3 linked regions of the Homo sapiens genome follow. The protein of the gene in region 2 purifies or fractionates together with the protein of the main gene of each other region. This does not show direct contact. Each region holds a gene or a part of one and is shown on either strand. Other genes may lie near its edges. The genes, in order: NCAPD3, EMC8 and PRRC2C.

Region 1 (3,729 bases), on a different chromosome or scaffold from region 2:
TTAGTGATTATTCAGGAAAGTTATCCCTCTATTTATATTAAAAGGAACTCAAATTCCTTTACCAATAATTACTAACTGAGGAAATCAGAGCCCTTTATTTAAATGTTCTGCAGATTGCAGGCAATGGGAGCAGGAAATGAAAGAGATCTCGGAAATGGCCCAGGTAAAGGAGATAAACCCTAGAAAAGAAACCACAATTGTATTAATTCTATCTTCATTCCATGTCTTCTCCTACTAAACACATGAAGAAGAAATGGGTTATTTTAATAACCTAAACATAGCAGGAACTAAATATGGTTTATCCTTGAGTATCGTAACAAAAAAAGGCCCACAAAATTCAAGTGAGCAGAGCACTCTCCTTTCCTTAACTAAAAAACTTACGGGAGAAATCATCTCCACTGGGCACAATGGCTCATGCCTGTAATCCCAGCACTTTGAGAGGCCAGGGCAGGAGGACTGCTTGAGCCCAGGAGTTTGAGAACAGCCAGGGCAACAAAGCAAGACCTTGTCTCCACAAAAAATAAAAAATTAGCTGGGCGTGGTGGCACACACCTGTAGTCCCAGCTACTCAGGAGGGTGAGGTGGGAGGCTCATGTGAGCCCAATAAGTTGAGGCTGCAGTAAGCTTTGACTGTGCCACTGCATTCCAGCCTGGGTGACAGAGCAAGACCCTGGTCTCAAAAAAAAAAAAGGGGGGGGGGGGAAGAAATCATCTCCTAACTTTACAGTGTCACATCCTCATTCCTAATGCCACCTGCACCTCCACTTCACACACGAGGGTGATCGATCACCCTAAACCATCTGCTCACCAGGGCTCTGCATATGGGGTCACCTTGGCCCCATGTGATCCCATGGCTGCTGTCTAGTCTGGGCGTCAGTGACCCTGCACTCCCTACATGTGACTGCTCCTCTGCAGACCCCGTCCAATCAGCTCTCCATTTCTGTCCTGGCTGCTTCTCACCCTCGGTGATCTCATGCATCACTGTGCTTCAACCCATACCTCAATTTAAAGAACTCTCTTCTCTCTCCTGGTCTCACATTTCTACTACCTGTTAAACTTCCCAAGGATCTCCTGACAGAATCTCAAGTTCAGAAGTCTAAACAGAACTGTTTCTCCATTTGACCTTGCTCTTTTTCCCTTATTCCCCACCTTGGTTAACAATATCATCATCTTCCTAGTTTTGAAACCCTGGGGATCACTGACTTCTTTCTTTTTCTAATTCCCTATGCCCAGTCAGTTTAGCACTTCACACCATGTTTTTAAGATATCTCAAAAGGGCTTCCTAGTTCACAAGGCCCTATTAATTCTAATTCCAAAAATGTCCCTAGTTTTTAGTCTTCCTTTCCAGTTCCCAAAATTGTAACTCCGGATCATGCCATTATTACTCATAACACCTGGATCACCAATACAGTCTCCCAAGGGCTCTCCCTGCACACAATTTTTCCCACTTCAGTCCACCTACTGTCAAGAACGTCTGCTTAAAACAGATCTATTCATGTTACCTATCTATTGCCCACTGTAACCTCTTTCACACAGGCTGCTTGAGGATTAAATGAGTTAATACATGCAGGACGCTTAGAACAAAACCTCATACACACTCTACCAAACATGTTCAAACTCCACTGCTGAACCTCACGTAAAGCTACCCGTGACCTACCCTTACTCTACCTTACCATCCCGTTCCACCACACTTTTTCTGTATGCCTCTTGACACTTCCTGCGTGTTCCCATTGGGTGGCTCCTTCACTAGGACTGCCTTACAACCCAAGCTTCTGCTAGTCATCTGTGAAGATTCGCTGCTGGCCACTTTCTTTCTGGAACTTTCCCAACCCTACCATGCTCCCTTTTTCACACCCTATGCAACAAATCCGCACCTCTCTTGGAGCATTTTTCACAGTGTGGTTCGTAGAATATTTCCAGGCGCCCAAATGCACAGTGGCACTGAACTCTCCACCCCCTGCAACTGCATGTGGCTGCTAGACCTACTTTGGCTAGTGTTCAAATGTCCACTCTTCCTCCCTGAGGTCCCTGGGGAGGACCTCAACCTAGGGAGATTGTATCGTAATCCCCACTCTGTCAACTCAGGTACTTAAGGCAGTGCTTAGTGTTATGCTGAAGGAATGTTTAATTAGATGATTTAATTTTGTGATGTGAAACTTGGAAGTGAATTTTTTTTTGTTCATTTAAATGTTTCAGAGATGTTAATATCCAATTAGCTTTTGTTCTGTTTCCCAACCCTTTGGTTTTTTTTGAAAACTAACAACCTAAATATTAATAATAATTTATATTTCTATGCATTGGATAGAACTCAATATTTACAGGAACTGTTTGGACAAACCTGTTAATTCAACTAGTCATTCCTCAGTTTAATAATATCAGATTTTCTTTTTTTGTGAGACAGAGTCTTGCTCTGTCGCCCAGGCTGGAGTGCAGTGGCGTGATCTCGGCTCACTGTAACCTCCGCCTCCTGGGTTCAAGCAATTATCTGCCCCAGCCTCTCGAGTAGCTGGGATTACAGAAGCCCGCCACCACAACCGGCTAATTTTTGTATTTTTAGTAGAGATGGGGTTTCACCATCTTGGTCAGGCTGGTCTTGAACTCCTGACTTCGTGATCCACCCACCTCGGCCTCCCAAAGTACTGGGATTACAGGCATGAGCCACCATGCCTGGTCGCAGATTTTCTTAAAGTTAAGGTTAAGGCATGTCTGAATTGTTATTTGCATTTTCCTTGGTCTAGTTTTCTTGTTTTTGCCTTTATATTTTTCCTTTTTTTTTTTCCTTCTGAGATGGGGTTTTGCCATGTTGCCCAGGCTAGTCTCAAACTCCTGAGCTCAAGCAACTGGCCAGCCTCAGCCTCTCAAAGTGCTGGGATTACAGACGTAAGACACCACACCCGGCCTTATACTTTTCCTTTAATTTGCTATTGTAAAAAACAGTCGTGTCTTAAAAAAAAAAAATCAGACAAGTACCTTGAAGCTTTTGGAGGAAAGCTCTTAGGATATTCCAATAAATTAACCACATTCTTTATGTTACTCATATTGTACTCCCTGTGAACTGTACACCAAGAAAGCTAAGCTTCAGATTATAATAATGACTTTCATCTTCTACTTCTAACACCAAACTTTGGCTAGTTTGTTTTTATATTTTTACCTCCATAGATCCATGTTCTCCAGTAGCAAAGGGTAAAAGGCTTTCATAGAGTTTTGTGAATGCAGCCAATCCAGTCTCTATGATCTCTGCTTCTATGCTGGGATCCAAAGGCTCAGTCTCTGTGAAATCCAGTTCCCACACTGTGTCAACCCATTCTAGGGGAAAATGCAATGAAATGTGTAAGTACTCTGTAACAAGTAAAAAAACTAGTCACCTTTAGATTCCAGGTGTGTTCAAGAGGAGAAAAGTTTACTAGTCACGATTCACATTTAACTTGTTTTAATAACATAGGTGTAGCATAATAAAAGAAAACCAGAAAAGGTTAAGAGAATCTTAAATCACAACTGACACTGACTATTAAGCTAATCATCTTCTAAAAATATAAAGGAGGAAATACTTTTCAGATACAAGAGTTTTGGGAAAGGACACTTCAAAACATTCAGTGATCAGGCTTTCCCACATGTTCAATCTAGAGAAGAAACAGAGGTTAATCAGATTGCCCACGAGGTTCCTTTGTGAAAATATCATAACCAAGTTAATAAGTGGAAATAAAATATAGAGCACTTTATTGGGCCCTT
Region 2 (3,500 bases):
ACTTTGGGAGGCTGAGGTGGGCGGATCACCTGAGGTCAAGAGTTCGAGACAAGCCTGGCCAATGTGGAGAAACCCCATCTCTACTAAAAATACAAAAATTAGCTGGGCGTGGTGGTGGGCGCTTGTCATCCCAGCTACTCGGGAGGCTGAGGCAGGAGAATCACTTGAACCCCAGAGGGGGAGGTTGCAGTGAGCCAAGATCATGCCACTGCACTCCAGCCTGGGTGACAAGAGTGAAACTCCGTCTCCGTCTCAAAAAAAAAAAAAAAAGTCTTTTATACTCCATCTCAGCATTCTAAGCACCGCATCATGAAATACCCCTCAGTTGGGGTGTAGGGTAAAGAGGTCCCAAGTTAGGAAGGGGCACGTGCACATGTCCTTAGTTCTCTCCGGCGTGCTTTGAAATGGAAGCAAGGTGGCAGACCTTTGAAGTTTTTGGGTTTCTTTTATGGTACCATGTTTCTCACCAGATGCAGCTTCCTGCAGGTCTAAGGCCATTATTCAAAACAACAAAAGCTCATCCTGTTTTGGCATAATGGAATTTGAATACACTGTAATAAAGTCTATTCTCAGTCTGCACAAGAGGAAACAAAATTGGTACCTTGATTTTTTTTTTTTTGTAGGGAATAAACTGGTTAAAAATGGATGTGTGTGTTTTTTAAACACAATCCTATTGCTCTTTTTCCTAAATTCTTGTTTGGGCCTCTGAGTCTCCTTCACGACCAAAAGCAGACAAGACAGTTACAGTCCAAGGGTCCCTGCCTTGCACAGGATTAGGATATTTCTGGCCTCCTAAGAGTTCACGAATTACCATATTGGGTCAAAACCAGGGCTCAGTGAACCAACTAGACATTCTGGTCATCCACCCAAAAGATCAGGATTATGTCTGTAAAATATCTATAATGGTGCTATCATTGTGACTTTGCTGAAAACAACTCCAAAACGACTCATATTTTGTTTCTATCACCTCTTAATGGAACAGATTCCAGAAGCTTTCTATTGCTGCTTAGAACAAACATCTCTATACACTATCAAAGGGGCTTGCTCTAAATTTGGTCAAGTTCCCTGATGAGCTGATCCTTGAGCACCGTGCTCCCAGCCTTCATGTGCCATCATGGGCCGGCCTCCTGAGTGTGTCCTCCCCTAAGGTGACCCACATCTCTGCCCCCCGGGTGTCCCTATCCCTGCTCTCCAGTGTAGCCTGCCCTTATTTTCACAGTCAGATTGGCCACTGTCTTAGTTTCCTATTGCCCTTGTGACAAGTTACACATACTTAGTGGCTTAAAACAACACTTTTTTTTTTTGAGAGTCTCGCTCCGTTGTCCGGGCTGGAGAGCAGTGGTGAGATCACAGTTCACTGCAGCCTTGAACTCCTGGGCTCAAGTGATCCTCCCACCTCAGCCTCCTGAGTAGCTGGGACTACAGGTGTGCGCCATCCTGTCTGGCTAATTTTTAAATTTTTTGTAGAGACAAAGGTTTCATCATGTTGCCCAGGCTGATCTTGGACTCCTGGGTTCAAGCAATCCTCCTGCCTTGGCCTCCCAAAGTGCTGAGATTACAGGCACAAGCCACCATGCCCAATTTTTTTTTTTTAAGGCAAGAAATAAATTTTATTGAAGGATTTTTCACCATCCATAGAGATTATCATATGATTGTTTTTCTTAGAATTTTTAATGCATACATTTTTTGGATTTTCTAACTTCAAATTCCCTAATTTCTTCCATTTCTGAAATAAACCGTACTTGATTAAAGTGCATGTTTTATTTTTTAATTTTTATTTAAGTTCTGGGATACATGTGCAGAATATGCAGGTTTGTTACATAGGTATCCATGTGTCATGCTGGTTTGCTGCACCTACCAACCCGTCACCTAGGTTTTAAGCCCCGCATGCATTAGCTATTTGTCCTGATGCTCTCCCTCCCCTCGCTCCCCGGCTCTGACAGGCGCTGGTGTGTGATGTTCCCCTCCCTGTGTCCATGTGTTCTCACTATTCAACTCCCACTTATGACAACATGCGGTGTTTGGTTTTCTGTTGCTGTGTTAGTTTGCTGAGGATGATGCCAGCCAAAATTTTTTATCTTACTGGTCAGAAGTCTATAATGGGTCAGCAGAGCTGTGCTTCTTCAGGATGCTCTAGAGGAGAATCCTTTTCCTTGCCTTTTCCAGCACCTAGAGGCTGCCCGCATTCCTTGGCTCATGGCCACATCACTCTGACCTCTGCTTCCATCATCCATCTCTTCCTCTCACTCTGACCTTCCTGCCTCCCCTTTACAAAGGTCTTTGTGATTACATGAGGCACACCCAGGTAATCCAGGATATTCTCTCCACCCTCAAGCCCTTAACTTAATCACATCTACAAATCCCTTTTGCTACATAAGGCCTGGGGATTAGGATGTGGACATATTTGGGGGGTTATTACTCAGCTGACCATACCATACAACATTTTCTAGGAAAAACCATAGGACATATTTTTTACTTAGCTACAGGCAACTTCCTGAAGACCCCCAGCAGCAGTCTCAGTTGGCTACTCCATCTCTTTCCTGGGCTGAAGCCACCTGGTTAGGACTCATAGCCCAGTAAACACATATGGTATCACCTTGTACCCACTCTCAGAGCACAGAAACCACCTGGTACAAAAGATGATTCCTATGACAAACACATGTATATCTCAACTTACATTTTGCCTGCTGAGGGACAAATTCCTGTAAGAAAACTCCAAGGGCCCAACCAAATTCCAGCAGAAAAATGTCATGACCTGGAACTTTAAGTAGAACCTCTTTGAAGAGGTTGCCCTTAAAGCGAACCAGGTCACAAAAGCTCTGGCCTGGCTTTAGAATTTAGAACTTTTGAATGACACACATGAGAATAACCAAGTTAGCTGTATGGATGGCTATGAGGGGTGCACACAGCCCGTTCACCAACTGAGGAATGGAGAACTCGAAGGGAGGAACGGAGACTCGGCCAAGCCTCAGCACTCACAGCGGCAGGGTGGATGAGTTCTAATAAGGGTAGTTTCCTGTGACAGTCCGGAATCTGGAACTAGGCATCAGGTGAGAGTGCCCTGGAGTGGAGTGGGCTGGGGGAAGAGGATGGGGCTTGCTGGTGGTGTAGGTGTGGGTGTGGCAGCCAGGTCTCCAGTGGCTGCAGGATCCTGCCCTCAGCCCAAATGGCTCCTGCATGAAAAGCTGCGGTGGATCTAAGTGGCAGCTAGGAGTCAAGGCAACTAGCTTCCTCCGAAGCGAGGCAAGACAAGGCACAGCCGAGAAGCCACTCAACCTCTGTTCCCAATGAATCCATTTCCATGTCCCTGCTTCGCTGTACGACACCCCACACCCTGATGTGCATCTTGTGAAAAATCAAGATGAAAATAAAAGGTCAGGAGAAAACTCTGTGGAGACTGTTGTCAATGTAGTCAAACTGACTCTGATATAGACACCTTCCGCATTCTGCACTTACTCATGCAATTTCATTTACTTTTTAGAGAGAAAGGACATTTTCAC
Region 3 (3,729 bases), on a different chromosome or scaffold from region 2:
ATGTGGCACAAAAATCTTGCTACATAGTTGAGATTTACATGGCACAAAAATCTTATCAAAATTTTCCCTGAGTATTGTTACTTAAAATTCTAATAGTTTGGTTACGGGAAATAAACTATTCTGTTTATTTTGGTTATCCTGATTCTCTTGGAATTTTAAGGGAATGTTCAAATTCCAAGTAAAAATTTCCTTTTTCTAAATTATCTGGAACAGCAAACTAATGCTGTGATTTGAACATATCCCTCAAAAGTTCATGTGTTGGGCCACGTGCAGTGGCTCACACCTGTAATCCCAGCACTTTGGGAGGCCGAGGTGGGCAGATCACCTGAGGTCAGGAGTTCGAGACCAGCCTGGCAAACATGGCGAATCCCTGTCTCTTCTAAAAATACAAAAATTAGCCGGGCATGGTAGTGTACGCCTGTAATCCCAGCTACTAGAGAGGCTGAGCCAGGAGAAATGCTTGAACCCAGCGGGGTGGAGGTTGCAGTGAGCAGAGATTGCGCCACTGCACTCCAGCCTGGGTGACAGAGTGAGACTCCGTCCCTCACCCACGCCCTCAATAAAAAAAAAAAAGTTCATGTGTTGGAAACTTGGTCCCTAATGGCAATGCAGCAGTGGTGAGAGGTGAGAACTTTGGAAGGTGATTATGTCATGAGGGCTCTGCCCTTCTGAATGGATTGATTGATCCTTAACAGGTTAATGAATGGGTTATCAAGGGAGTTGGTTAGTTACCATGAACGGGTCTGTTATAAAAGCCAGTTGTGCCATCTCTTGTGAGCCCCCTCACCATGTGATAAGCATGCTGCCTTGGGACTCTGCAGAGTCTCTACCAACAAGAAGGCCCTCATGAGATGTCGCCCCCTCAACCTTCGACTTTGCAGCCAACAGATTTGCAAGAAATACATTTCTTTTCTTTATAAATTACCAGATCTCAGGTATTTAGTTATATCAACAGAAAATAGACAAATATACCTTATGGGTATAGTAATCTGAAGTGCTAAGTATGTAAAACTAAGGAACTCAGATTAATACCATACAGTCCAAATAAATTCTTAAATTCTTATCAGCTCAGGCTGCAAACCTGGCAATTGCTCTAAAAGCAGGGCACACATAATAATGATTACTTACTATATACCAGGTATTAAGTGCATCACAAGTATCATCTTAGTATCTTCACACATTAAGTGCTATTATTTTCTCCCCATTTTAGCGGTGAGGAAGCAAAGGGGAAGCAACTAGAAAGTACTAGAGCCGAGATTTGAACCTAGGCATTCTGAATCTTAACTGCTACGTTATAATGCTAACACTAAATAAATAAATCAATACTAGCTTACTATAACCAACTTTTTTTTTTTTTTTTTTGAGACGGAGTCTCGCTCTGTGGCCCAGGCTGGAATGCAGTGGCACAATCTCGGCTCATTGCAAGCTCCACTCCCAGTGGCGCCTGCCACCACACCTGGCTAATTTTTTGTATTTTTAGTAGAGGACGGGGTTTCACTGTGTTAGCCAGGATGGTCTCGATATCCTGACCTTGTGACCCGCCCAACTTGGCCTCCCAAAGTGCTGGGATTACAGGAGCCACCGCACCAGGCCCAACATCTGAATAGTTAAAAAAACAGGCCAAGCAACAGGTGCAGTGGCTCACACCTGTAATCTCAGCACTTTGGGAGGCCGAGGCGGGTGGATCACGAGGTCAGGATATCGAGACCATCCTGGCTAACACAGTGAAACCCCGTCTCTACTAAAAATACAAAAAATTAACCAGGCATGGTGGTGGGCACCTGTAGTCCCAGCTACTTGGGAGGCTGAGGCAGGAGAATGGCATGAACCCTGGAGGTGGAGCTTGCAGTGAGCCGAGATCACGCCACTGCACTCCAGCCTGGGTGACAAGGCGAGACTCCATCTCAACAACAACAACAAAAAACAGGCCAAGTTTAGCTTACTTGAGAAAAAATATTTTTTTAAAAAAATCCATTGCCATGGCAATTATGTTATTGGTGTCCTTGGTAGTAGAACAGGGATTTGTTTTCTGGGCCTCTCTCTAGAGTGACAAAGTATATGGTTATAACATTAATTTAAATCTCAGAGGACACCTGTGTAGCATTAGAGGTTTATTAGGAGAAACTGAGAAAGAAGGGAGGGCTACTCATCAGATAACTTACCAAATAAGGACACAGTACATGTCCCTCCTTAGATGTGAACATTTTCCCAAAGCTACAAGTTTCCAAGAGAACTCTTCTGGAAAATGTAACGTAGCAGGCAAAGACTCCTAAGACACCTTAACCTCTCTTCCTTAAGCACCCTTACACTTTGAGAACAGAGAATAAAGCATTTGGGAAGAACAATGTTTTTTGGTCCTTTATCTAGACTGGCTCTTTGCATAATTCAACCAAGAACTCTACTTTTAGCTTCTTTAAAGGTGCAAAAGCAACTATATTTAAAACAAAGTACTCACCCTCTCTTCCCACTTTTTGATGGTGGGCCACTTCTCCTTTCATTTCTAGGACCTGAGAAATTCCTTCCTGATTTGGGTGGACCATTGTTGCCACGTCGATTCTGACGATCTACTGGTCTCTGACTAGAAAAACTTCTCTTTGCAATTTCCCTCTTTGGAGGTAGAACATTCTCTCCAACCTTTACAACTGTTTGTGCATTCAAGTCAGCATTTTTTTTTTCATCCCTCTCTCGCCTCTCATTGAAATCACTGCTTTCAGAAGCTGTTTCCCATTCTTCATTTGCCTGATCTGAAGAGTTCTGATTAGATAAATCTGGTGTCTTATTCCCGGAAATATCCCCAAGAGTATTAACTGGTTCTTGAGCCACATTATTAACTGTGCCATTTGTGGGCACTGCTACCACCTCATTTGATTTTGAAGCAGCCTCCCTCTCTCTTAGCCGTCTAAATCGAGGTGGCTTGTCTTGCCTTGGTGGTCGAGTAGGACGCTGCCTTCGAGGCCTTTCTCTAGCTGGGTCAAATTTTCGCTCAAATTTTGGAGGTCGTTTATCTGCTGCTATAGGAATAAACTGCTCATGTCTTCTTGGCGGCTCTCCATCTTCTGGTTTAGGAACTTCTGACTGCCTTGGGTTCCACTGATTGTCCCGATAAGCTGGTCTTCGTAAAGTGGAAGGGCGTGATGGACGGCCTCCAGGATCCCTTCCACCACGCCTGAATGTTCCCCCTCTGCCTCTCCTTGTAGGCTCTCCTTTAGGAAGAAAGCCTGGTTTAGCTTTATCGTCATCCCTTACATAAGGCTTTTCTAGCAGTCTATTATCTATTCGAACATGATTATCAGGCTTGAAAGAAGAATGAGGCTTTACAGGTTTTTTGTTTTCAGGCCGTTCCTCTCTTTTGGGAAGTTTGCCTTTACTTAAACTGTCCTTGTCACTTGCACTTTCATGAATTTCACTGTCTGTGTCAGTCTCTGAACCCCGCTGTCGTCTTCTTTTGGGGACAACTTCAAAATCAGAGCTCTCACTCCGTGTTTCACTTTCTTCTCGCTGTCTGAGAGGCCCTGAGGGTATATGCTCTGCTCTTGGCTTATTGTCTCTATACTGAGGATAATCTCGAGTGTGTCCCCTACCACCCCTGCCACGCCCTCCATAAGAACCTCTATAGCTTCGACCTCTGGAGTAATATTCACCTCGGCCTCGACCTCTGTATCCTTGATCTGGAAACCAATCTCTCTCTCTAGCTTCTTTCCAATAGGTCCTGGGAGGCAAAGTTGATTC

The links.
Region 1: the proteins of EMC8 (region 2) and NCAPD3 purify together in Homo sapiens (co-immunoprecipitation; one large-scale study listed by IntAct). This does not show direct contact.
Region 3: the proteins of EMC8 (region 2) and PRRC2C purify together in Homo sapiens (affinity purification with mass spectrometry; one large-scale study listed by BioGRID and IntAct). This does not show direct contact.

What each region holds. Positions count from the first base shown.
Region 1 is NC_000011.10:134,217,421-134,221,149, forward strand, and holds part of NCAPD3 (condensin-2 complex subunit D3), read right to left. Parts: intron 3,307-3,729; coding exon 3,152-3,306; intron 3,072-3,151; exon of another isoform or gene 2,971-3,071; intron 1-2,970.
Region 2 is NC_000016.10:85,789,545-85,793,044, forward strand, and holds part of EMC8 (ER membrane protein complex subunit 8), read right to left. Parts: intron 3,390-3,500; exon of another isoform or gene 2,753-3,389; coding exon of another isoform or gene 2,678-2,752; intron 1-2,677. UniProt on the Homo sapiens protein: Part of the endoplasmic reticulum membrane protein complex (EMC) that enables the energy-independent insertion into endoplasmic reticulum membranes of newly synthesized membrane proteins.
Region 3 is NC_000001.11:171,540,956-171,544,684, reverse strand, and holds part of PRRC2C (protein PRRC2C), read right to left. Parts: coding exon 2,456-3,729; intron 1-2,455. UniProt on the Homo sapiens protein: Required for efficient formation of stress granules.